5 separate regions of the Homo sapiens genome follow, and all the other regions are linked to region 4. Evidence: fine-mapped expression QTL. A gene starts in region 4. Each other region holds a variant in brackets. All regions are shown on one strand. Distances are between the middles of the regions. Region 1 overlaps ACYP2 (acylphosphatase 2). Region 2 has its middle 57 kb from the start of PSME4. Region 3 overlaps PSME4 (proteasome activator subunit 4). Region 4 holds the start of CHAC2 (ChaC glutathione specific gamma-glutamylcyclotransferase 2). Region 5 overlaps ASB3 (ankyrin repeat and SOCS box containing 3).

What was found. PIP is the estimated chance that this variant, and not a neighbour inherited with it, causes the effect.
Region 1: its variant is the best candidate, but not a certain one, in a credible set for the expression of CHAC2 in T cells (TOPMed, PIP 0.68).
Region 2: its variant is the best candidate, but not a certain one, in a credible set for the expression of CHAC2 in whole blood (INTERVAL, PIP 0.61).
Region 3: its variant is the best candidate, but not a certain one, in a credible set for the expression of CHAC2 in monocytes (BLUEPRINT, PIP 0.66).
Region 5: its variant is the best candidate, but not a certain one, in a credible set for the expression of CHAC2 in whole blood (TOPMed, PIP 0.50).

Annotation. Positions count from the first base shown.
Region 1 is chr2:54,164,408-54,169,514 of GRCh38, reverse strand. All of the region lies in intron 3 of ACYP2 (acylphosphatase 2), which reads right to left. It also overlaps the pseudogene RNU7-172P. Among named protein-coding and RNA genes, the nearest start is that of ACYP2, 51 kb to the right of the region's middle. The variant A/T (reference allele first, on the strand shown) is at 2,148.
Region 2 is chr2:54,025,277-54,030,383 of GRCh38, reverse strand. It overlaps a transcript of ACYP2 not described here and the pseudogene RPL21P30. Among named protein-coding and RNA genes, the nearest start is that of PSME4, 57 kb to the right of the region's middle. The variant AG/G (reference allele first, on the strand shown) is at 2,546.
Region 3 is chr2:53,898,183-53,903,289 of GRCh38, reverse strand. It overlaps PSME4 (proteasome activator subunit 4), which reads left to right. Exons shown (of 47, transcript NM_014614.3): 28 at 1,731-1,940; 29 at 3,273-3,409; 30 at 4,936-4,989. Among named protein-coding and RNA genes, the nearest start is that of GPR75-ASB3, 41 kb to the right of the region's middle. The variant G/TG (reference allele first, on the strand shown) is at 2,891.
Region 4 is chr2:53,765,150-53,770,256 of GRCh38, reverse strand. It overlaps CHAC2 (ChaC glutathione specific gamma-glutamylcyclotransferase 2), which reads right to left and starts at 2,453. Exons shown (of 3, transcript NM_001008708.4): 1 at 2,236-2,453. The coding sequence starts at 2,370. ASB3 (ankyrin repeat and SOCS box containing 3) reads left to right here. Exons shown (of 10, transcript NM_016115.5): 2 at 4,672-4,880. The coding sequence starts at 4,685. GPR75-ASB3 (GPR75-ASB3 readthrough) reads left to right here. Exons shown (of 10, transcript NM_001164165.2): 2 at 4,672-4,880. RefSeq lists enhancers at 1,922-2,111, 2,132-2,481.
Region 5 is chr2:53,735,813-53,740,919 of GRCh38, reverse strand. The region is part of intron 3 of ASB3 (ankyrin repeat and SOCS box containing 3); the gene reads left to right. The region is part of intron 3 of GPR75-ASB3 (GPR75-ASB3 readthrough); the gene reads left to right. Among named protein-coding and RNA genes, the nearest start is that of CHAC2, 29 kb to the left of the region's middle. The variant C/G (reference allele first, on the strand shown) is at 2,450.

The DNA.
Region 1 (5,107 bases), 400 kb before region 4:
TTGCATGAGGCCATCATGGCCAACATAGCAAGACCTATTCTCTCTTAAAAAAAAAAATTCTAGAGGCTGAGGATTGTTTATCACATTTTTTGATGTAGGATCCAAACGAAGGTGAGCATGTGTGTATTTATTTCAGTAATGTCCATAAATTTGAAACTGAAGTCAAAGGGGGATAGGGGAGGCTCTCATGGGTGTGCTCCAAGCATCAAAGAAACAGATCAAAATCAGACAGACCTAACAAAGAGGAACAACACACCAGGACCCAAGAACGCAAGCATGCAACTCCAATGGCACCACACATGCTAATTAGCCCTGGAAGATTCACTGCTGAAACTATCTACTGGAGTCATCAGAAAAAGGCCAACCTCTGCTAAATAGCTTCCATTCTGTGGGGAAAAAGGTAAGCGATAAGTCTAACATACTTTAGAAAGAATAGCGTTCAAAATTATTTAGGTAGAAAAATTCTTCTGTAACACTCCTGATTGGTTCTTTGGACAGGAAAACCAAGCTTTACAAATCCCAACAGGTTTAAAGGAAAATGACGCCAAAAATAAAGCTTTGGCTCATCTTACCAGTGTTTCACCTCAGTTGTCTATTTTATAGGCCATTTAAGTGAAAGCATGCACTAAAAATTTTGACTTTGTCATCCTCAGCTATCCAGAAAATGGCAATGCTTAAAATTCTATTTCTAATACAATTACAATTAATGTGTTATCTATAATACACCCTCTACAGTCTTCCTGTTTTATCATCCATTTTACATTTTCCCAAGAGATACTGTATGTTCATTTTCACTGCTCTTTCTCTTTTTAAAATTCATTGGGTTTCTTTAATTCAATGATTACTATATCTATTTTAAAATAACTCAGCTGATATATAACAATAATGGCTCTACTACACCTGTCTAAATATTATCCCCGTAATGTATCTGAAATTATATTAGTAACACTTCTCTTGGTAATATCCAATTACTTTTTATGGTTTCTAACTCACGGTTCATGTGGCTTTTTTCCTTTATTGGACATTTGGATGTAGCAGATTATTTTATTATTTTATTTTATTCTATTCTATTTTATTTTGTTTGGTTTTGAGACGGAGTCTGCTTCTGTGGCCCAGGCTGGAGTGCAATGTCGTGATCTCTGCTCACTGCAACCTCTGCTTCCCGGTTTCAGTGATTCTCCTCCCTCAGCCTCCCAAGTAGCTGGGATTACAGGCATGTACCACCACGCCTGGGTGATTTTTTTATTTTTTTAGTAGAGACGTGGTTTCACCATGTTGGCCAGGCTGGTCTTGAACTCCTGACCTCAAGTGATCTGCTCACCTCAACCTACCAAAGTGCTGGGATTACAGGTGTGAGCCACTGTGCCTGGCCTGGACACAGCAGATTTGACACAGTGGTTTTGTCTGAAGACAATGGAAAAAGTGAATATTTTGACAAAACAGTTTTGAGAAATGTACATCAAAATATAGAAGCAATTTTTATAAAAAATGACAGTAATAATTGGGATGGAGAAATGGGATGGAATGAGGCTCTGGGGTGGCACTGGGCCCAAGAACAGGATGAAGACTTCTGTCTTTCATATTATGTGGTAATTTTTTAAAACTGGCTTATTATTTAGAACTTATCAAAATATTCCAAACTCAAAACAATTCCATCACAGACTGATAAACAATTAGCCATTCTCTCTGAACCTCTTTAGATATCTCCTACACAACTCTCTTCCCTCTGAATTATTGTTTATAAAAGCCCAAAGTATTTAAATAAAATTATGGATATCATAACATTTCACCCAAATACTTCAGTATACAGCTATAAAAAATAAAGACACTTTCCTACATAACCATGATGATATCACACATAACAAATATAATACTAATTCCTTAACGTTCTTTCATACCCAGGCCATATTCAAATGCCTCAGTAGTTCCTCCCCCAAATGTCTCTTACAGCAAATTTATCCAAATCAGAAAAAAAAATCTGTATCTATATAACATTTGTGATACAAATATAGAAAAATACTACAACTGTGAAATCTAAATGTGGGTATTACGCTATTCTCTGTCTTTTCTCTGGATTTGAGATTTTTTGTAATACAGTGTCCAAAAGATTGCCACCATTATATCTTTTCAGATATGATTATAAATGT[A/T]TCAGAGGAGAGTGTTGTCTAGACTGTGCTACTGGGCCCTGTGCTGTTCAAAGCTGTCCTCAATTATTTGGACAATGATATAGAAATGATCCTTATCAAATTTCTCAGTTGATGAGCTAGGAGAAACAATGAACATGTTAGATAACTGAATCAAGATCCAAAAACACTTTGACAAACTAAATATAGCAGACTGCTGAGGAAATGAGTGGTGATACACTGGGTGCTTTTTTTGTTCAGTAAGAGCTGGAGGCAAAAGGTCACAGGTCGATAGATGCCGTCATGAGGAAGGGTCCTATGGATTACCAGTAGCTTTGGTGATGGCCAGATCAAATGGAATTGCCTGAAGCATTAAAAAAAAAAAAAAGTTACAGCTTTTTCAGAATTTGTCCAGCAGGTTTTCTGGTTTTCACTGGAAAATACCTCACACAAAAAAAGAAAAATTAAAATAAATTTTAAGAGTCCTTTATCAAGAGGGCCTGCCTGCTGCCCTCCTGGCTTGTGAGCTGCATCTGTTAGCCTTGTGAGATGAGCATTGCCAGCGAACTGGGGTGGCAAATGTGAGACTAAGAAATGGAGGTGGGGGGCTTGGAAGGTGGGGATACAAAAGCCAAATTGCTATAGAATCTTGAAGTAAGTTTCCATCATTATGAGAAATCTTCAAGGTGAGTAGCAAGGTAGCCTAACCATCTTGGCATCGAACTCAAGCACTTGACTGGGTCCAAATTCAGAGATTATCTTATCCTGTGCTTGGCATATTTCACAAGGACAGATGTGTCAGCCAAACTGGAGATGTGGACATGATAATGAGCAATTTTTTTAAAGTCACAGTATCTGAATGTAGGTCGCCTTGGCATTGACAGGGCAAACAGGAGGATCTCAGTTTGTACAAAAGTTAAAATCCTTTATTCAGTCTCAAGAGTTTTCTGGATCAAATCCTCCATGTCTTACTTCATTCTGTATACACATTCTTCTGTGTCTACCCATCCATCTTTCCTCAAGTCCTTGAGGGCAGAGACTGTATTACTCATCTTTGTATCCACAGTTCCCAACACTCTGCCTGACATATAGCAGATACTTTATAATATTTGTGGAATGAATAAATGCTTGCCCAGAGGACACAGGTAATAATCAAATGCATCACCTCATGCTGTATCAAAGACTACATGGCCCTCTGGGTGCTCTCTGACAACACCATGGTCAAGTGGAGCGCACACACTTTGGTTTCCTTGACTGACTAACCAGGCAGTAATTGAGGCTGCACCTAGATAAGAGCATTAAGAATGAGGCACCACTAAGCCAATGGACCAGGGTCTGATATTGCTGGATGGTTGTTTAAACTGAATGTAAAACTTCAAACTTTTAGAATGCAGTGTCACATGTGTGTGTTTTGGTGGATTAAGGCAGTATGTTTTCTGCAACAAGTCAGGCTGAATAGCTCTGATTCAATATGCTTACATGGGTTTCTAGGACTTTTAGAGAGATAACCCTCTGTAAAATGGCCGGTAATCATTGATTTAAAATAGATATATATAAACTCCTTAGATTTCCGCCAGAAGATTCCTTCATCCAGAGTCCAAGATGCACTGACTTTCCCTTGGGGCAGGGGTAGGGAAGAAACTAACAGGAAGACTGGTTTGCTCTCCTGGCACCCAGTCTCCTCTCCAGTCTAAGGCACCAATGATCAGGTCAGATCAGCTCTGTGAACCATCTTAACATGGATGGGGCATCATATAGTATTGCCTTCAAGTGTACTTTCCTTTGCCTCAAGTCTTAGAAGACTTTGGTTGTCTCTAATGTGTGTGTGTGTGTGTGTGTGTGTGTGTGTGTGTGTGAGAGAGAGAGAGAGAGAGAGTGAAAGAGAGAGAGACAGAGAGAGACAGACACACACACAGAGAAAGAGAGAGACAGACAGACAGACAGACCAGATGACCTCTCAGGTCCCTTCTAGATCTAAAATTTTAAGACAATTGTTCTGAAAGTACTAACTAACAATGAATGGCCAGCTTTGGAATTTGTGACTAGCAGTATTCAAAACATATTCATGATTGCAGGAAATAAGGCAGAGGACCCTAAAAGGAGATACAAAACCAAAAAGGTAAATGTGAGTGAAATAATATATCAACTTCAAATCGTTAGCAAGGTAATGCCACTGAAATCAACTAGTCTATACAGTGTCTCCAAGATGGTTAGTTAGAAAATAAGGCTGTTTCACTACTTGCAATAGCAAAGACATGGAACCAACCCAAATGCCCATCAATAAGAGACTGGATAAAAAAAAATATAGCACATATACACCATTGAATACTATACAGCCATAAAAAGGAATGAGTTCATGTCCTTTGCAGGGACATGGATGAAGCTGGAAGCCATCATTCTCAGCAAACTAACACAGGAACAGAAAACTAAACATCCCAAGTTCTCACTCATAAGCGGGAGCTGAACAATGAGAACACATGACACAGGGAGGGGAACATCACACACCCAGGCCTGTCACGGGGGTGAGGGGCAAGAGGAGGGAGAGCATTAGGACAAATACCTAATGGCTGTGGGGCTTAAAAACTAGATGATAAGTTGATAGGTGCAGCAAACCACCATGGCACATGTATACCTATCTAAGAAACCTGCACGTTCTGCACATGTATCCCAGAACTAAAAACAAAAACATAACAAAACAAAAAAACGCTGTTTGCCACAAGAGGCACCTCAAAAGGACAAATGTGGTCCCAAACACCCCTGGTTTCCATTCATATGAATTAATTTTTCTTAACTTCTCATTAATCTGTTTATATTTTCAGTTTATATTGTCCCTTTGCCAGTTCTCTTCCTTACTGTATTTCCTGCAGTCTTCTCTCTTCCCTATGTACCCAGTGCCGGTGCCTACCAACAAGTGTTTCAGCCTCCAGTCTGTCATTTGAATTCATCCTGAATATTCCATTAATGACTCCTCCTAAATCATCATT
Region 2 (5,107 bases), 260 kb before region 4:
GGGCTTCTCCCTAACCTGGAGCAAACCAAAATAATAGAGACAGTCATACATTCCTTGTGCCAGGAGTCGACGAAATCTGAGACGAGTCAAGGTAACAGAGGCAGCTGTTTGAATAGATTCATTGGAGAGTCTAAGGCAGCTCGCCAGGCCAAGCCGTAAAGGAGATAAGATAGAAATAATCACTCCAGTATCACAGTAGACAGGCCTTGAAGGTCCTGGGGCCCCCACAGTTTAATCAGACTTAGCAAGCATTTTTTTGCCTCCGACCTTCTAATTGAAACAAAATTAGCTACCAATAGACTTAGGTGAATATTAGACTGGTCTTGGGCTCATAACCTCAACCTACATAAGCACTAAGAAAATTGTAACACTTTGAATTGGTCTGGTGGAATTATCTCGGGCCTTCTCCCTGTATCTGGTTACAGCAATAAATTCCCTTCTTTCCTAGTTTGTCTGCTTCTCATTATTGGCGGGCCTCGAGAAAACACAGCCGGACCCGGCTTGGTTCTGGGAACAAATCTGTAAGAAAGGTGATATTGTAGACATCAAGGGAGTGGGCACTGTTCAAATAGGAATGCCCCCCAAGTGTCACCATGGCTAAACTGGAAGAGCCTACAATGTTCCCCAGCATGCTGTTGGCATTGTTGTAAACAAACAAGTTAAGGGCAAGATTCCTGCCAAGAGAATTAACGTGGGTATTAAGCACTTTAAGCACTCTACAAGCTAAGAGAATTTCCTGAAACGCATGAAGGAAAATGATCAGAAAAAGAAGGAAGCCAAAGAGAAAGTTACCTGGATTCAACTGAAGCACCAGTCAGCTCCACCCAGAGAAGACAATGTGAGAGAACCAATGGGAAGGAGCCTGAGTTGCTGGAACCACTTCCCTATGAATTCATGCATAATACATATATACACATATATGTGTGTGTACATATACATATATACATATGTGTGTATATATATGTATATATATGACCTCTGGACGGAAAAAAAAAGTAATAAAATGTAAGAAACCTGGTAAATATGACCTCAGGTAGGTCATCAAGGTAAACATCAACAGTGAGAGGTTATGCTGGTAGTATGTACCCTTGATATGTGTGATGAAAATGGTACTCCACCGCTGTAGTTTTTGTAGGAGTGAAGGGAAAACTTCCTCTTCACCCTCTGAAGGTTCACTGAAAAATCAACTGACAAAGGGCAGATTTTTTTTTCTTTTCCTGAGACAGGATTTCCCTCTGTCACCTAGGCTAGAGTACAGTGGTGTCATCATGGCTTACTGCAGCCTCAGCTTTCCAGGCTGAAGCCATGCTCCTACCTCGGCCTCCTGAGTAGCTGGGGACCACAGGCAACACCACCATACCTGGCTAATTTTTAAAATATATATATTTTGTAGAGATGAGGTCTCACTATCTTACCCAAAGTGGTCTCAAACTGCTGAGCTCAATGATCCTCCAGCCACCAGTTCTCAAAATTCTGGGATTACAGAAGTAAACCACTGTGCCGAGCAAGATTAATAGGGGAAATGGTGTGCAAATTTATTAACGTGTGCAGGGAAGAACCACAGAGCGTTTCCCAACTATGCAATGAACTACAGATGGTTATATGCCCTTCTTTTTAGGGGAAAGGGAGATGGGGAAGAGTGGATGATTTTAGGAGAGTAGTAAATGGTATTTAGGGGAATTCAATGGGACCGAAGAACATACAATGGCCTGGGACAAAGTCTATTGGATCTGCTGAGAAAACAATGGTTTGTGACAAAAGTCTGTCCATCCAGGTGTGTTGACAGACTTCAGTCTTTCTTCCTGTGATTTGAGTTCAGTTAATAAAAACTCAGAGAAGGTACCAGAAATAACTATTTTCTTCTTTGGTGGGTCTGGACTTTAAGTAGATGAGGGAACTTCAGAGAACATCATCCCATGTTTACAGAGAGAAAAATAAGATTGAGAGCCAGGAGGCTGAGGGGAATTGCCGGGAAAGTCAGAGAGACCTTGAGGCTTTTTCTTCAATTCAGCATGTCAGAATGCCATATTTTGGAGTATTGGTTTCTGAGTCCCAACATTCTCGTCCCCTTAACCCATAAACCCAGTCTAATAATAAGAAAAACATTAGACAAATTCCAGTTGAAGAACATTCTACAAAATATCTGATGAGTAGTCTTCAAAACTATCAAGGTCATTAAAAACAAAAAAAGTCTGAGAAATTGCCATAGCCAAGAGTAGCCCAAAGAAACATAATGACTAAGGCCAGGCACGGTGGCACATGCTTATAATCCCAGCACTTTGGGAGGCCAAGGTACGCAGATCACCTGAGCTCATGAGTTCGAGACCAGCCTGGTCAACATGGTGAAACCCTATCTCTACTAAAAATACAAAAATTAGCCGGGTGTGGTGGCAGGCACCTGTAACCCCAGCTACTTGGGAGGCTGAGGCAGGAGAATCACTTGAACCCGGGAGGTGGAGGTTGCAGCAGTGAGCTGAGATCGTGACACTGCACTCCAGCCTGGACAACAGTGTGAGACTCTGTCTCAAAAAAAAAAAAAAAAAAA[AG/G]AAAGAAAGAAAGAAACATGATGACTAAATATAATCTGATATCCTAGATGGGGTTCTGAAACAGAAAAAGACATTAGGTAAAACCTGAAGAAATCTGAATAAAGTATGGACTTTTATTCACAATAATGTATCAATATTGGTTCCTGAATTATAACAAATATACCAAGATGTAGAGAAGAACAGATTTCCTCACCCATTGCAAGGTTTATGGCTGAGACCTCTATAATAAAAGACAGATTAACAAGAGAAAAGCATAACAAAATTATTTAGTATAAGTTTTATGTGACATGAGAGCTTTCAGAAACGAGAAGACCCAGAAAAACTGTGTATTTTTATGATAGTCTGAAGTATGATTGGAAGACAAAAGGTATGATGGAATGGTAACAAACTGGGAGGAATTAGGCTCGTTTGTTCAGTTTCTTCTTGGCATCCCTGTTTGATATTTCTTCCCTGGGATACAGGGCAGGACAGCTGTTACATGACAGCCTTCTGGGGGAAAAGGAGGGAAAAGGCCAGAGAGTGACCCTCCAAGTTTTTATGGTCTGCTTCAGAGGAGAAAAAGGGTGAAGGCAATTCTAGTTTTTATGGCTTGCTTTAGGGGAGAAAGGCACAAGAGAAGGTCAAAGAGACCCTCCTGCTTCTGCTATCTTCTCAGTTTTCAAACTACCCTATTTCTGGACATTATGTTCTGAGCCCCAACAATGCTAATGTTAATAATAGAGGAAACTGGCTACAGGATATATGTGAACTCACTCTACTATCTTGGCAATTTTTCAGTAAACCTAAAACTGTTATTGGAGAACGGATAATGTTTGGTTACATGGTAAGTTCTTTAGTGGTGATTTCTGAGGTTTTGGCGCACACATCACCTAAGCAGTGTACACTGTACCCAGTGTGTAGTCTTTTATCCCTCGCTCCCCTCCCACCCTTCCCCCCAAGTCCCTAAAGTCCATTGTATCATTCTTATGCCTTTGCATCCTTATAACTTAGCTCCCATTTCTAAGTGAGAACATACGATGTTTGGTTTTCCTTTCCTGACCTACTTAATTTAAAATAATGGTCTTCAATTGTATCCAGGTTGCTGCAAATGCCATTATTTCATTTCCTTTTATGGCTGAGTAGAATTCTATGGTATAGATACATGACTCTTTTTATTCAGTCATTGATTGATGGGCATTTGGGCTGGTTCCATATTTTTGCAGTTGCGAATTGTGCTGCTATAAACAAGCATGTGCAAGTGTCTTTTTCATATAATGACTTATTTTCCTCTGGGTAGATACCCAGTAATGGGATTGCTGGATCAAATGGTAGATCTAATTTTAGTTCTTTAAGGAATCTCCATACTGTTTTCCATAGTAGTTGTACTAGTTTACATTCCCACCAGCAGTGTAAAAGTGTTCCCTTTTCACCACATTCATGCCAACATCTATTTTTTTTTTATTTTTTAATTATGGTTATTGTTGCTGGTATCATATTGTGGTTTTGATTTGCATTTCACCAATAATTAGTGATGTTGAGCATTTTTTCATGTTTGTTGGCCGTTTATATATCTTCTTTTGAGAACTGTCTATTCATGTCCTTAGCCCACTTTTTAATGGGATTGTTTTTTTCTTGCTAATTTGAGTTCCTTGTAGATTCTGGACATTAGTCCTTTGTAAGATGCATAGTTTGCAAAGATCTTCTCCCACACTGTGGATTGTCTATCTGTTTGTTTGTTTGTTGAGACAGAGTCTCGCTCTGCCACCCAGACTGGAGTGCAGTGGTGCGATCTCAGCTCACTGCAACCTCCACCTCCTGCATTCAAGTGATTCTCCTGCCTCACCCTCCCAAGTAGCTGGGACTACAGGCGCCTGCCATCACGCCTGGCTAATTTTTATATTTTTAATGGAGATGGGGTTTCACCATGTTGGCCAGGCTGCTCTCAAATTCCTGACCTCAGTCTCAAATTCCTGACCTCAGCCTCAAATTCCTGCCTCGGCCTCCCAAAGCGCTGGGATTACAGGCATGAGCCACCATGCCTAGTCAGGGTTGTCTGTTTACTCTGCTGATTATTTCTTTTGCTGTGCAGAAGCTTTTTAGTTTAATTAAGTCCCATCTATTTATCTTTGTTTTTGTTGCATTTGCATTTGGGTTCTTAGTCATGATGTCTTAGACTAAGTCGATGTCTCAGACTAAGACAATGTCTAGAAGAGTTTTTCTGATGTTATCTTTCAGAATTTTTATGGTTTCAGGTTGTATATTCAAGTCTTTGATCCATCTTGAGTTGATTTTTTTATAAGGTAAGAGATGAGAATCCAGTTTCATTGTTTTACATGTAGCTTACTAATTATCCCAGCACCATTTGTTGAATAGGATGTCCTTTCCCCACTTTATGTTTTTGTTTGCTGTGTTGAAGATCAGTTGGCTGTAAGTACTTGGCTTTCTAGGTTCTCTATTCTGTTCTGCTGGTCTATGTGCCTATTTTTATGCCAATACCATGCTGTTTTGGTGACTATAGCCTTATAGTATAGTTTAAAGTCAGGTAATGTGATGGCTCCTGATGTGTTCTTTTTGCTTAGTCT
Region 3 (5,107 bases), 130 kb before region 4:
AGAGAGTAGTTAGATGATGACATAGTTAATTTGGACTAGTTTAATTTGAAGTGGTTCCAATGACCTAAGAGCACCATCAAGTGGGCAGTTAGACATCTGAGTCCGAAGATACCATTTCCATGTATGTTGATTATAATTGAAATCTATGGGCATGGATAAGAAAGCCTAGGAGGAGAATAAGAAGAGGACCAAGGGGCATATGTTGAGAAACTCCTTTAGAAGCCAAATAGAAGAGCTGAGTGACCCTGGAGAGGTCAGAAAGGTATCAAGAAATCGGGAAGAATCACAGAAGGCAGGGAGAGGTCTTTCTAGAAGGAAGACTCAGTGAGTAGAGTCATTGTTTTTTGGAGATAATGAAGACGAGCCCTAAACATCTTCCATGAAGCTTGTAAGACAGAGGTGTCAATAAACTATAGCTCAGGCTCAGTTGCTTGCTTTTGTAAAAGTAAAAGCTTGCTTTTTTAAAACTTCTTGAAACACAGCCATGTTCATTCATTTATATATTATGTATGGCTACTTTCACTCTACAGTGGCAGAGAAGAGTAGTTGAGACAGAGAGCAAATGGCTTTGCTGTTTGCTTTCTGGCCGTTTATGGAAAATGTTTGCTGACCCCTGGTGCAGATGTATAATTCAAGAGTGTTGTAGGTTTGACTCATTGACTATTCTGTTGTTGACCTTAATGAGAGCAGTTTAAATGGACAAAATTAGAGAGGTCAAGTACAATCAAAACAGAAAAATATCTATTAGATCAACAAAATCGAGGTTATGAGTGACCTTATAGAGAACCTGTAGAGGAGTGGAATACAAAGTCAGTAATAAGCTAGATTGGAATCAGGTGAGGTAAATTGGAAATCAAAAGTTTTGATAGTAAAAACTTTTTATGAAAAAGCACTTTAGAAAGGATACCTGCTGTCATCAAAGGATACCTGCTGTCATCAGAATCATTGTGGTTAATTGGACTTTTATGAGTAATAAATATGCAGTATACTTTAGTTTTTATGTACTTTGTAAATTACTCAGCAACCAGGTGTTAACTAATATTTAATAAATTATTTCAAACACCAAACTTCAGACTCTAAAATTTTAAGAGTGACACATGTTGTGGTTTTTATGATACAGTTGAAGAAAATCAGAATGGAATATATGTTCTTAGAAACATCCTTCCATTTCTTTATTACCTTATTAGTAGCCATTCTTTGAACAATTTCTTTTTTTCTTTTTGGAGACAGGGTCCTGCTGTGTCACCTAAGCTGGAGTACAGTGGCACAGGCATGGCTCATTGTAGCCTCAACCTCTTGGGCTTAAGTGATCCTCCCACCTCAGCCTCCTGAGGAGCTGGGACCACAGGTGTGTGCCACCATGCCCAGCTAATTTTTGTATTTTTTATAGAGAAGAGGTTTCACCATGTTGCCCAGGCTCTCAAACTCCTGAGCTCAACCAGTCTGCCTTATTTGGCCTCCCAAAATGCAAGAATTACAGGCGTGAGCCACCTCACCTGTCCCAAACTCTTTATTAAATGACTTAGAGAAAATATTAATGGATATCACCTAAATGTCAAGTTCAGATTTCTAAAAAGTAACATGTTAAATGTGTGAACATATTTTACTAACCAATATTAAGCATTTAAGTAATCAATACTCATTTAAAACCAATACATAGGTGCATTGGCTACAACTACATGATGCCTCTTATTTCCCATGTAAACATATATATATTTTTTTTTCTGCAGGGTGCCTTGTACTGTCTCCTTGGAAATCACAGTGGTGTGTGCTTGGCAAACCTTCATGATTGGGACTGTATTGTACAGACGTGGCCAGCGATTGTTTCTTCAGGGCTTAGCCAAGCAATGTCCCTGGAAAAGCCATCAATAGTGAGATTGTTTGATGATCTTGCAGAAAAGATTCATAGGCAGTATGAAACAATTGGCTTGGACTTCACAGTAAGCAATATCATTCTTTCATTCAAGTTTTAGTGTAAATCCTGTCTTGTTAAAATGCCCTTTATTTTTCTTGCCCTTTTTCCAGTAATAATATTCTTGGCATTTGAGTCCAGTGTTTTTTTAAAAAAGCGTTTGTTACCTGTTTGCTTTTTGTACTTTCATTGATCATTATTGTACATAACAGGGTGAAGTAGCAAGTTGGAGCATGGTAGGGAGACAGCCAGGGCTCCACAAAGGGTTATTGATTTGTTATATTTACCCTTATTTTGTGTGTGCCCACAGCTTCATTTTTCAAAGAGTTAATTATATTTTATGAGGTTTACCATGCTAGCCAAAGTCGCAAAAGATCGACTACTGGGTTCGTAATTTATAGTGAAGAAAACTAAAATTGAATGATTTGACTCGAAAGACTAAAGAATATAACTTTCAGTGGTGCTTAGGTTGAGAGTTATAGCAGATTTTCTAGGAACTTGCAAATCTGTATTTATACTCCCTCAGAACATGGGGGTGAGTAAAAGAAGGGTGAGCACAGCAGAATCACCCTCTTGGCTGGCGTGACTATGGTTGACATCTCTCCCCTGGTTTAAAAACCACTGTTCTAAATGTATTCCTTTTAAATCAAACATAGGGTTGCTATTTGCGACTGTCATTAGATTATACTTTATTTTTTAGAAGAAAAATTTTAATTGAGATGTAATTCACATATCATAAATATCACCCTTTTAATATGGACATGTTATATGCACAGTAGAATATTCACAGGGCTGTGTAACTACTCAAATTCCAGAACATTTTCCTTTTTCTTTGTTTCTCATTCTCATTCTGTCTCATTCTGTCCCCCAAGGCTAGAGTGCAGTGGCATAATCATCCCCTGCCTCAGCCTTCCTAGTAACTAGGACTATAGGTGTGCACCACTACACCCAGCTAATTTAAGTTGTTTTTTTTTTTTT[G/TG]AGAGAGAGACAGGGGTCTTGCTGTGTTCCCCGGGCTGGTCTCAAACTCATGGCCTCAAGCAGTCCCCTCACCTTGACCTCCCAAAGTGCTAGGATTACAGAGATGAGCCACCATGTCTGGCCTCCACAATGTTTTCATCACCCCAAAAGAAAACAAGTACCTAATAGCAGTCGCTTCCCATTCTTCCATACCCCAAACCCCTGGAAACCACTTTCTCTGTCAATAAATTTGCCCATTATTAGATATTTCATATAAATGGAATCGTAAAATATGTGGACTTTTGTGTCTGGCCTCTTTCACTTAGCATGACATTTTCAAGGTTCGTTCAGGTAGTATGCATCAGAACTTCATTTTTTTTCCTGCTTTTTTCTTTTTAACAAGATTCCAAAGTCATGTGTTGAAATAGCGGAATTACTTCAACAGTCAAAAAACCCCTCTATCAACCAGATATTGCTTAGCCCAGAAAAAATTAAGGAAGGAATTAAACGCCAACAGGAAAAGAATGCCGATGCCCTAAGGTAATTGATGAATGGTGTACTTCAATAGATGACATTATAGATAGTAAGTTTTGGCTTTTTTTTGAGACAGAGTCTTGCTCTGTTGCCCAGGCTGGAGTACAGTGAGACGATCATGGCTCACTGCAACCTTCACCTCCTGGGTTTAAGCTCTTCTCATGCGTCAGCCTCCCGAGTAGCTGAGATTACAGGCATGCACCACCACACCCAGCTAATTTTTGTATTTTTAGTAGAGACAGGGTTTTACCACATTGGCCAGGCGGGTCTCGAACTCCTGGCCTCAAGTGATCTGCCCACCTCGGGCTCCCAAAGTGCTGGGATTACAGGCATGAGCCACTGCGCCTGGCCGATAGTAAGTTTTTAACATCTCTAAAATATAGATGTATAACATAACTGCTTAATGATGTTTACACATTGACTTCTGAAAAAAATACAAAAAAGTTGAGAAGTAATTACTACACAGATTCCTGTTTTTCCTTTTTAAGCTATGGAGGTATAAAACACCATCTTAAAAATAAGGCCGAGCACGGTGGCTTATGCCTGTTATCCCAGCACTTTGGGAGGCTGAGGTGGGAAGATCACTTGAGCTAAGGAGTTCAAGACCAGCCTGGGCAACATGGTGAAACCCTGTCTATACAAAAAAAACAAAAATTTAGCCTGGCATGGTGGCACGCGCCTACAGTCCCAGCTACTCGGGAGGCTAAGGTGGGAGGATCGCTTGAACCTGGGAGGCAGAGGTTACAGTGAGCAGAGATCGTGCCCCTGCAGTTCAGCCTGGTAACAGAGCAAGACCCTGTCTCAAATAAACAAAACAAAAAGTTATTTCACTGTCCTATCTTTTTTTTTCTAGTGAATTATCTTTCTTTTTTTGTTTTTTTAAGGTAGTAATATTTCAGAAACTACATAACTGGTACACATCAGTCATTAATTCCTAAATTCAAGTTTAGCAGATGTATCATTTAATAGTTCTTATAATAGTAATAACTTATTGGTCAAATTTGGTATCAGGATTTTAATAAACTGTTTTTGGATTCTTGATACCAAAGCACTTAAATGCTTCACTGATAACACTCAAGCAAGAGTCTTCCTAACTTGATTTTGTCTTTGCCTTATAATTAGTATATGAATATACCTCTTTGTTGTTTTCTAAAATGTCTATAAATAATAAACTCTTATAGCCTACCTAATATATTTCAGAAACCTGGTGTATCGTGTGTGTGTGTGTGTGTGTGTGTGTGTGTGTGTGTGTGCCACTCCCAATTAATTGATTACTACTTACAGAGTTACTTGTGCATGTCCATTCAGGAAAAGTTGAGTTCACTCTTCCTAGCCTTTCATGAGCTTTTCCCAGCATCTCTGTTCACCTGTCTACTTTCATTCTGGCTTGCTTCTCATCAGGCCGTTTACAGTCAGGTGGTGGGAAGTAAGTGGGGAAGGAGGGTGAAATTGGCTAGAATTTGAATTTCTATTATATTTTTGATGTTCATTTTAGTATTATAGTAAAATAATACCTCACCTTTTTTTTAAAGGAACTATGAAAATTTGGTAGACACCTTGCTAGATGGTGTGGAGCAAAGAAACCTGTAAGTGCAAAAGATTTTTGTAATTCTCACAGCATTTTTCATAAATACTATAGGAGTTTTCTACATGGAAGGCTATGAATGACTATGTCACAAAAAGTTATATTCCGGTTTGTGTATT
Region 4 (5,107 bases):
CATTTAATTTTCCTGTTAGTCTTCTCATACATTTTAATAGTTGCATAATATTGTGTCATTGATGAACTATAAACGTTCCTGTGTTCTTGGACATTTAGATTTCTGACTTGTTTTCTTTTTAAGATGATGCTACAATGAGGATATATATATATTGGTGAGGGTCAAGTAGATAATGCCATATTATTTTCAATTTCAAAGTGAATTAGAAGTTATTTATGCATAGCTACTGTGTGCTGTGGAGAAGATGAAATCTTGATTCTTGGTTCCAGTAGCTTATATTGTCATTCTAGAATGCAAACTAACATGTGAAATAAATAGAGCTAAGATATGGGCTAAGATGTATGGTATTAAGTGCAGTTAGAATTCTGAGTCTTAGGTGATCAGAAAGACACCTTTTTTTAGCTCTTTTTTTTTGAGACGGAATTTCACTCTTGTTGCTCAGGCTGGAGTGCAGTGGCGCAATCTCAGCTCACCGCAACGTCTGCCTCCCAAGCGATTCTCCTGCCTCAGCCTCCAGAGTAGCTGGGACTCTACTGGCGTGCGCCACCACGCCCAGCTAATTTTGTATTTTTAGTAGACAGGGGGTTTCTCCATGTTGGTCAGGCTGGTGTTGAACTCCCGACCTCAGGTGATCCACCCGCCTAGGCCTCCTAAAGTGCTGGGATTATAGGCGGGAACCACCACGCCTGGCCAGCCCCTTTCTCCTTTTAAAGAATCACGGACTGTTGTGTTGACTAGGCAATTTCTAATCATCAGTCTATTCTGACAGCATACATATCTCAATGTGTTTTGTAACACACTGTACATTTTCGTCAAGACTAGTAAAGTATGTTGTTATAGCCACATACATAAATATTTAATACTTGGTCATTATAATTGGAGCCTGGGCTAAAGGTTTTCTTTTCGGAATGGCAATTTTAAATATTCATATCAAAACTGACAACTCTCAAACTCCTGGCCTCAAGCAGTCCTCCTGGCTCAAACTTCCGAAGTGTTGGGATCAGAGGCGTGAGCTACCGGGCCCAGCCAAAACTGACAACTCAGAAGCCATTTAATTTAGCTTAGTTCTTTAATGTCTTGAATATTGTTCTAGAACATTCTTGGAGATACTTTGGCCATGACATTTCTGTTGATCTGTAAATGTGCATTTATCCTAAGCCATTGCCCCTTTTCAGGTCACTGTGTCCAACATCCCAATAGGCCAGTATAGTCTACTTAAAAGCCAAGTTCTTAACTGACCAACTCTAGTTGAGATAGAATGGTTTCTAATTCAGGTTCTTTTCGTGATTTTAATCCCATGTCTCTCTTATGAGCAGGTGCAAACTACTTTAGCGCCTTGATCTTTTCCACTTTCCATTGACCAATTTCCAAATTATTAGTTACCTCAATCTTAGTTTTCTTTATGGATTAGTTGTTTTGTAGCCAGTACAAAGCTGATTTGCATAAGCAGTGAGCTGCTGCTAATTCTCTATACATATATTGAGATTAATGTCTTTGTAGGACTGACTGAAAAGTGAATCAATGAACTTACATTTCATATTATAATTATGAGAACCATCAAGAAAGTAACATTAAAATAATGCTGGATATAGTAATGAGTTTGGTACTATGTTATTCATATAACCAGAACTTCATTTAACTTCACTAGTACTGAAAACCAAAGTGAGTTCCTTAATAACCAGCGAAAATTTTGGAAACTCATTCTGCAATCCTGTGTGTCAGAAAATAAAACTTTTGAAAGATGTAAAGAAATCCTAGAAGTAACATGCACGTTTAATCGCAAGCTCATGAAAGTCGGCTAGAATGCAGAAATGCCAACAAATTTAATTGCTAAAAAGCTGAATTTGCAACTTGATTTACTATTTCAACTCTGTGGTGACATGAGCATTCATCTTCCCGCCAATGGGACTTTTTTTCTTTTGGCAGAGGTTGCAGAGAGATGGAGTCCCCATCTCCGCACTCAGCCTGGTGCGAGCTCGTGCGCCTGTGCCCGCGCTTCTCGCCGTCTCTAGAGACTAACCACCGGCATCTTAAGCAGCTTCGGAAGGAGTGCCCGGGCTGGGTTAGAGATGGCGGGCAGGTGGCAGGGAAAATCTACAGAAATGTTACCCCAAGCCATGTGCTTTGGCCCCATGAAGCGCTAAGGTGTGGTTCTCTAGGGTGTGGGTGCTGTGTGTGGAGTTGGGGAGCAGGGGTCAGGGGGCAGTAAGTGTGGGGAGCTGACCGGCGCCTCACCTTGCCGGGGACCCCGCGGTGGTCCGTGCTGCCCTGCCAGAAGCGCCTGCTGTAGTTGGTGATGTATCCGACCAGCTTGTCCTGATAGGGGAAATCCACCTTCCAGATCAGGGACCCGTAACCAAAAACCCACATCTTCTCGCGGCTCCTCTGCCCCAGTGGCCGTGAACCCTAGCTGTCGCCGCGCCGCCGGGGACTGAAGCCTCCGGTAAGCGAGTAACCGGCCGCGCGGGGCGCAGGCGCGATGGCCACTTGGGGCGCAAAGCGCACTGGGAGTTTAGATCCAGAAAGATTTTCCGAGCGGATCTCAGTCAGCTTTATTTTATTTCCTTGATTAGGGTGTCAAGAGGCATTGACCTTCGGTGTAGTAAGCAATGGATTCTTTTGCAGCATCCGTAAATCACCCTAACCTACCTTTAGTGCCCGTGTGCAGAAAACTACAATACCCACAATGCTTTTTGGAGCTATTTGGCTCTGAAATTGGAACTGGGCTTATTTCTAACGGGGCCGAGGAAGGAGAAAAGAGCAGGAGTCGTCACTCGTGTCCAGATACGGAGGCGGTGTACCAGCACCGCAGGTAGCAAAGCACCTAGAAACACGTTTTGTTCTGCTTTGGAAATTAGATTTTTGCCTATATAACAGCAGCCAGAGGAATGTAATTCATATTTGATTTTATGTCCTGAAAAAAAAGTCTTTTGCCTTTCAAATAAAAGCAGAAAGTTTACAATAGAAGTTTACGCTTGTGAAAGAGTAGCTGTCATTTCAATGGGAATTGTTTATATATTTAAATTTTACACAAATTTATTCATCTTTAGTATTATCATTGGCTTGTTCACAAAAGAGCAGGCAAATGTTCTTAACTTGGGGCCCCTGTAAAGGCTTTGGAAACGAGCTGGGGAACCTGAATTTGTATACAAAATTTGGGGTGTACACTTTTCTAGGGGGAAACTACAGCTTTCATGAGTTTCTCCAAGGGGTCAAGGATCCTAAAATTTTTTGAAGATCTGCTCATTAGAGCTCTTGCTGCAAAATATTGTTTAGGAAATTCGCTTGGACTATCATGGCTGTGTCTCTGTGTGTGAAAACAGAAACCTTACCAAGTGATTGTTCTTTCTTGAAGATTTTTATACCATGATCTTGAATGCTAAAACACTCAGATTCAAGGGGTATTATTTGTTTTCTTATAAAGAAATCAGCAGGAAGCTGCTACCAGACAAACAAACAAAAAAAAAAGCAAGTCTTTTCCTATTTTCTCTAAGTTGTGGTTTCAAATTGCCTGATATGGTTGCTAACCCTTCTTTTTTGAAAAATTTTGAATACACAGAAAACTCAGATAAAAAGAGTGTAATGACCAATACCTTTCATCTAGATCCAGTAATTACCATTTTGCACAGTTGCTGTACTTCCTTTTTACTTTATTTATACTTTTAAATGGAGAACATTTGAAGTTGCTTGTGTTATGACATTTTACTGCCACATACTCTACATGTGTCTCATAAGAATAAGGACATTCATCCTAGAACAAGTTCCCTAAAAAAAAAGAATAAGGGCATTCTCCTAATAACTGTGATGCCATTATCACATCTGAGAAAATTAACAATAGTTATGTAATCAAATAAGTATTCCATATCCAAACTGCTTCATAGAGTCACTAACAAGAAATTGTGTCTTCGAGAGAGTCACATGAGAGCTATACTGGACTCTGACTGGAGGGGAACTTGAAGTGAGCATTGGAGGGAGGTGATGATGTGGGCAAGAACTCTGTTAAGAACTTTCTGGGCTATGTAGGAAAACCGGGCTCATCTCTTCATGGTGTTCTCTGTTGGTTTCAGTATGCTCAGTCAGTGGGTCTATTTGGTCAAGCATAGAGAATCTGAGTGTTTAACCTCTTCTGGAAAGGACAAGCAGGTGCAGGAAGACTAGAATGACACCTATCTTTCACTGCTTTTCTGGCCTCTTTGGGTTTAGTTGTTTCCTATAGAGGGCTGTATATTGAGGCTGAGCATTGCTGGTAGTTGAATGGCCATCTCTGCATAATGTAGTGTACACTGGGGATTAAGCAGAGGTGCTCTTATCAATGGAGCACCAAAGAGGGTGCTCTTATCAATGGAGCACCAAAGAATGCGTTGTGGTGGGGTATGAACAGGAGCAGAAGCCTACTCCTCAAACATTTCCAGAGGAGGAAAGATAGAACACTTAAAAGTCCCTTCATGTTTTTAGTGGGAACCTTCCAAGGAATTCCAATCTGCCAAACAGAGAAACTTCCTGCTTTAGGCACCAGCAGAGACTGTGGCATGGCAGTCACTTTCTGTATTGTGGGCCCTTCTTCGTCAGTCATGTGAGAGATACTAGACAGGCCCACCGTGATTTGCTGACCTCTAGGAGTGAAGTGTTGTTTTATTGACTATAGTATTATCCTTCTACCTTGTTTTGTAGACTGGTCAAACAAATGGATTTTACAGAGGCTTACGCGGACACGTGCTCTACAGTTGGACTTGCTGCCAGGGAAGGCAATGTTAAAGTCTTAAGGAAACTGCTCAAAAAGGGCCGAAGTGTCGATGTTGCTGATAACAGGGGATGGATGCCAATTCATGAAGCAGCTTATCACAACTCTGTAGAATGTTTGCAAATGTTAATTAATGCAGGTAAAGTAAATTCAAGGTATGGAGGCTTTGCCTACAAGCTGGATTAATAAAACATAAAAAAGTATAATACATAACTTATTAACAGTAGTATTTGTTTCCCTTTCTATAGTCATAAAATAACTGCCTGAATTTATTTATTAAGGATAGTAAGATTGCCTGCCTTGGATTCAATTAGTATGATACTCTAGTTGGACATCTTATACGGAAGTGCCTCTGTCTGGCCTCTT
Region 5 (5,107 bases), 29 kb after region 4:
CTGCTGCTGGGGAGACATACGGAAAAATAAACAATATATAATAGGATAGTGGAATTTTAGCTTTTTGTCTTTTAATACTTTCATTTGATTGAAGGATGTATTTTTCTGGATATGGTCTCTGATGTCTAATTGGCCATTAGACTTCTCCCTGTCTGTTAGAAACCATGAGAAATGTCAGTGATAACGTGGATGATTGGATTGGGATATTCGCCACAACGTTTTTGTTATATCCCTAACATAATGAGTTTTGCCCAGAAGATCATGGTTTTTCCCATCAGTATGCATCTTTAAGATTGTTAGCCACTGGGCAGACATGAAGAAATTTATAAAACAGAAATATAACTTTTTAGTATAATTTTTAAAAAATTCTGTATATCAATAAAATACTACATTTCAGACTAAAGATTTTAATAATTGTTCTGCTGCCTTGGGTATAAGTAAAGTGCTGGAAAAACATAAACTTGAGGATACATAGAATAAATGGACAACACTGGAAAAAAAAATTCCTTTGTCATAGCAATAATGGAGTTTCTTTTCTAGTGCCACCAGATGTCAGTATGAACACAGGACCAGAGAAATACTGCAGGAGATAAATGTTCTTACAAATGTTCCTTTTTTGGTTCATGAAAGAGGTGGGGGAAAAAAGTTTTACATAAACTAGCTATACAATGAAAAAATAATTTTACTGTTCAATTGTATAGAAAAATGAAATGCATAATGGAGAACAGAGTACATGTAGAACTCAAAAAAGTAGAGATACCATTAAAAATTCATATATAATTCAAATGTAAAATTGAATATATAGATGATTTCTGCATAGCCAGCCAGCCTGCTGCTATAACTGGAGGAGATGGACAGCCTGTGGTTAAACTTTTCGTTACAGACTTACTGACCATGTCATTTTTTAGAATTATTGTCAAAATCTGAGCCTCAAAATGAAAGACTAGGCTGGGTGTGGTGGCTTATGCCTATAATCTCAACATTTTGGGAGGCTGAAGTGGGAGGATCACTTGAGCCCATGAGTTCAAGACCAGCCTAGGCAACATAGCAAGACCTTGTCTCTACAAAAAATGGAAAATGAGCTGTGTGGGTGGTGCATGCCTGTAATCCCAGCTACTCATGAGGTTGAGGTGGGAGCATCGCTTGAGCCCAGGAAGTTGAGGCTGCAGTGAGCCGTGAATGTGCCACTGTCCTCCATCGTGGGTAACAGAGCCAGACCCTATCTTAAGAACAAAACAAAACAAACAAAAAAATGAAACAGTATATTTTCTAGCTAATAGAGATAAAACTCACTGTAATTTTCATTTGGTACAAAATTGTGTTTATAATTGTAATTTGTACAGAATTGTTATGGTAATTCCCTAGAACTCATAGTCACATTAAGCATTTTTCTAAAAGAGCATTCACTAAGATAATTACATTTAAAAAATGTCCCTTAAAAAAGCTTTTTCTTTAATGAATGCTATATTAAACAATGATCATTATTTACTATTTCTAGTTAGATTTAGTACTTACATGTATGTATAGGTCTACCATATTTCTCCCAGATGAGAGTCCCGTTTTGAGTTCTTGCTTTCATGAAATCTTCACATGGGGCTTTGCTTGTAACTGTACTCAATATGTTGCATGCCACAACTGAGTTGATTTTGGTCAAAAGTTTTGTGTGGGTCAAAGGCTGCTTCTAGTTTCTCAATTTCCTGTTTTCAAAAATATTTTGTTACCTAAGATATGTTTTTCCAGATTGCTTCATTTTTCCTCTAATTTAGGAAATGGAAAAAGGTGTTTTTTCAAAACCAGAAAATGTCTCCCTAGAAATTATTGCAGGATATGTTCTCATGCCATTTTTGCTTTCTTAAGCATTTACAATTAGAGATTTCTTCCATACTATGTTATATGATCCATTGTGGGAAAAGCAGTGTTCCTACCCTCAGAGGTTCTGGCTTTTCTCTTCTACCTGTTTGGAGTCTTACCTGTTTGGATTGAAGAGGGGAAAGTCTTTCTCCCATATCTCTGTGTACTCCAGACACTTGGAGCTCTGCCTTCTGAAATGCGGTCTTTTATTTCATCCTTAATCTTTTTCCTTGGTCTCTGGTCCCTATTGGATACCATTTTTTAATACCAGATACTATGATTCTGCTTTCTTTTTCTTTCTAGGAACCCACAGTACTTTTCTAGCTTCTAGAATTACACCTTATCTTTCTGTCTTTGACACTTACTCCAAGACCTGCAGCTGATCGCCTGGCTCTCTGTTTCCAATGCTAAATGGGTATCTTGAAGACAGGTATACCTAGTATTCTAGGTTAAATTTCAATTCAATTCAATTCTAATCTCTAGACCAGTCCTACCCAATAGAACTTGGAATTGTCCTATATCTACATTGTCCCTTATGATGGTCACTAGCCACATGGGGCTCTTGAACACTTGAAGTTTGTCTGGTTTGATTGAAGAA[C/G]TCAAATTTTAATTTTATTCCATTTTAATTAATTAAAATTAAAATTTAAACAGCCAAATGAAGCTTCTGTCTTCTATATTGGAGAACAGTTCTAGAGAGCAACAGAATGAGTGCAGTTCTTCATACATCCTTAACTGAACAGTAGTCCTGTTTTATTTTTGAAATATTTATCTCCTTTGCCCTAACATGTGGTCCTAGATGGGTCTCACATAAAAAGGCGAAGGAGCAAAGAAACACCAGCTTAGCCAACTAGTTTTGCTTATCAATAGGATGGTAAAAGTCACAACTGAATTTTTCTCATTATCCTCCATTGATTAGGTGATTATCAGGCCTCTACACTATCAGGCTTAGTTCCTGATATCATGGGCTTACAATTTAATTGAGGATATTATAATAACCAGAATTCAAGATAGGCTGTAATAAATACCATAAGAGGTACACAGTATATGAAGCTTAGTTCTGTCCTAATTACTGTGTTGTTATTCTGCTGTGGATTTATCTATTTCTTGTCTCTTCTCTCTCCCTGTTTCTTTAGGTTTTAAATCATTTTTCAATTAATATACACTTTAGTATTATTGAGTAAATAGGACAGTGTTCAGTTTGATTTTTATTCTGATGTGTTTTAAAAAATTCAGGGTATACTATATGCACATTAGGAATATTTTAGATATTCAAAGTGTTCTCGAAATTTTCGTTTTGAAATTCCCTTCAGAATTTGTGGCAGTCTTTTTTTTTTTTTTTTTTTTCCTTTTTTAAAACGTCCTGGACAATTTCACATACACAAAAGCTTGGAGACATCCTTCCCCTTCCTCTCACAAGTACCCAGGATTGATCTCCATTCTTTTGGAATAGTATGGTCTCATCACTCTGACTTAGCCAGAAGTCTTAGGAGTTCCATGGCCCCTCAGTAGTGTTTGACTTCTAATTATTTCTGTTCCATTCTTGACCCTTAAGCAGTTTTTATTTGCCTTACCTTGTACATGTGCAACCTACGCTTGAACCAAGGACCCTTGGGCAACTTCCACACAGAGGCCTCCTGTCTGCACAATTCACTCTTCTCTAGGGCCTTACCTGCAGATTTCAACCACTTAAATTCTAATCTCTGTCTCCTCAGTTTACTACTGCACTTGAGCCTCTTTCCTCTGGTTGGAGTACACCTTTCCCAACCTTACTGTTGCTCTACTTGGACTTCAGCTCACTGTACCGTAACGGGGAAATGTCCCCAGGTACAGAGCTGGGGTGATCATGGGCTCATCTCTTGTGTTTCACTTCTCTCGGGAATCACAGTTGTCTGCCTGTTGATTAATACCCGAGTAAGTTACCTTATATATTTTGTCCACTCTTATGATTGTTTTGGATGGATGGCTAGTTTAGTACCAGTTATACTGTCATATCCCAAAGTATAATTCTGAAGCTTATTCAATTTGGCGAGGGAATCTTAAAAAGAGAAATCAATATCTTCTTTTAGACATATTTTTTTCTTTTTTGAGACAGAGTCTTGCTCTGTTGCCTAGGCTGGAGTGCTGTTGCATGATCTCGGCTCACTGCAACCTCCGCTTCCTGGGTTGAAGTGATTCTTGTGCCTCAGTGTACTTGGGACTACAGGCATGCACCACCACACCTGGCTAATTTTGTATTTTAATAGAGACTGGGTTTAAACATGTTGGTCAGGAATTCCTGACCTCAGGTGATCTGCTCACCTTGGTCTCCCAAAGTGCTGGGGTTACAGGTATGAGCCACTGTGCCCTACTCAATTTTTTTTTTTTTTTTCTGAGATGGAATCTCACTCTGTCGCCCAGGCTGGAGTGTAGTGGCGCGATTTCGGCTCACTGCAAGCTCCGCCTCCTGGGTTCACACCATTCTCCTGCCTCGGCCTCCCAAGTAGTTGGGACTACAGGCGCCCGCCAACATGCCTGGCTAATATTTTTGTATTTTTAGTAGAGACAGGGTTTCACCGTGTTAGCCAGGATGGTCTCGATTTCCTGACCTCGCGATCCGCCTGCCTCGGCCTCCCAAAGTGCTGGGATTACAGGCGTGAGCCACCGCACCTGGCCTCCAATTTTAAGGTTATTAATTTATGTCACCACCACCTGGATATGATAGTTCCACTTTTACCACATCCCTGCCGGATACTTACTCTGTGTTTCATTTTAAATATTCTGGTGGGTGGTGTTGTGGGTGCTCACTGAGGTTTTCATTTGCATTTCCCTAATGGAATGACAAGAAGGTGAGTACTTTTCCATGTATTTTATTAGCTATTTGCATATCCTCCTTTGTGAAGTTCCTGCACAAATTTTCTCATGTTTTAAAAATAATTTATCTTTTTATTGATTTAAGGAGTTCTTAATTTTAACGTGGTCCAATTTATCACTATTTACCTTTATGTTTATTGCTTTTAATATGAAGATTAAAAATTATTTTTCTATTCCAAGATCAGTTTGTAGATTTTTCCTTTCTTTTTTTTTTTTTTTTAGAAGGTTTGTTGTTTCTAAATCCAATCTGGAATTTAATTCGCAATCCATCTGAAATTGGGTATTGTGTGGGACAGGGGTGAAGATTTTTTTCCCCATATGGATATTCAGTGGACCCAAAACCATTGTCACCTTTGTCATAAAAGTGACCATTTGTTGAAGGTATCTGTTTCTGCAGTTTCAGTTG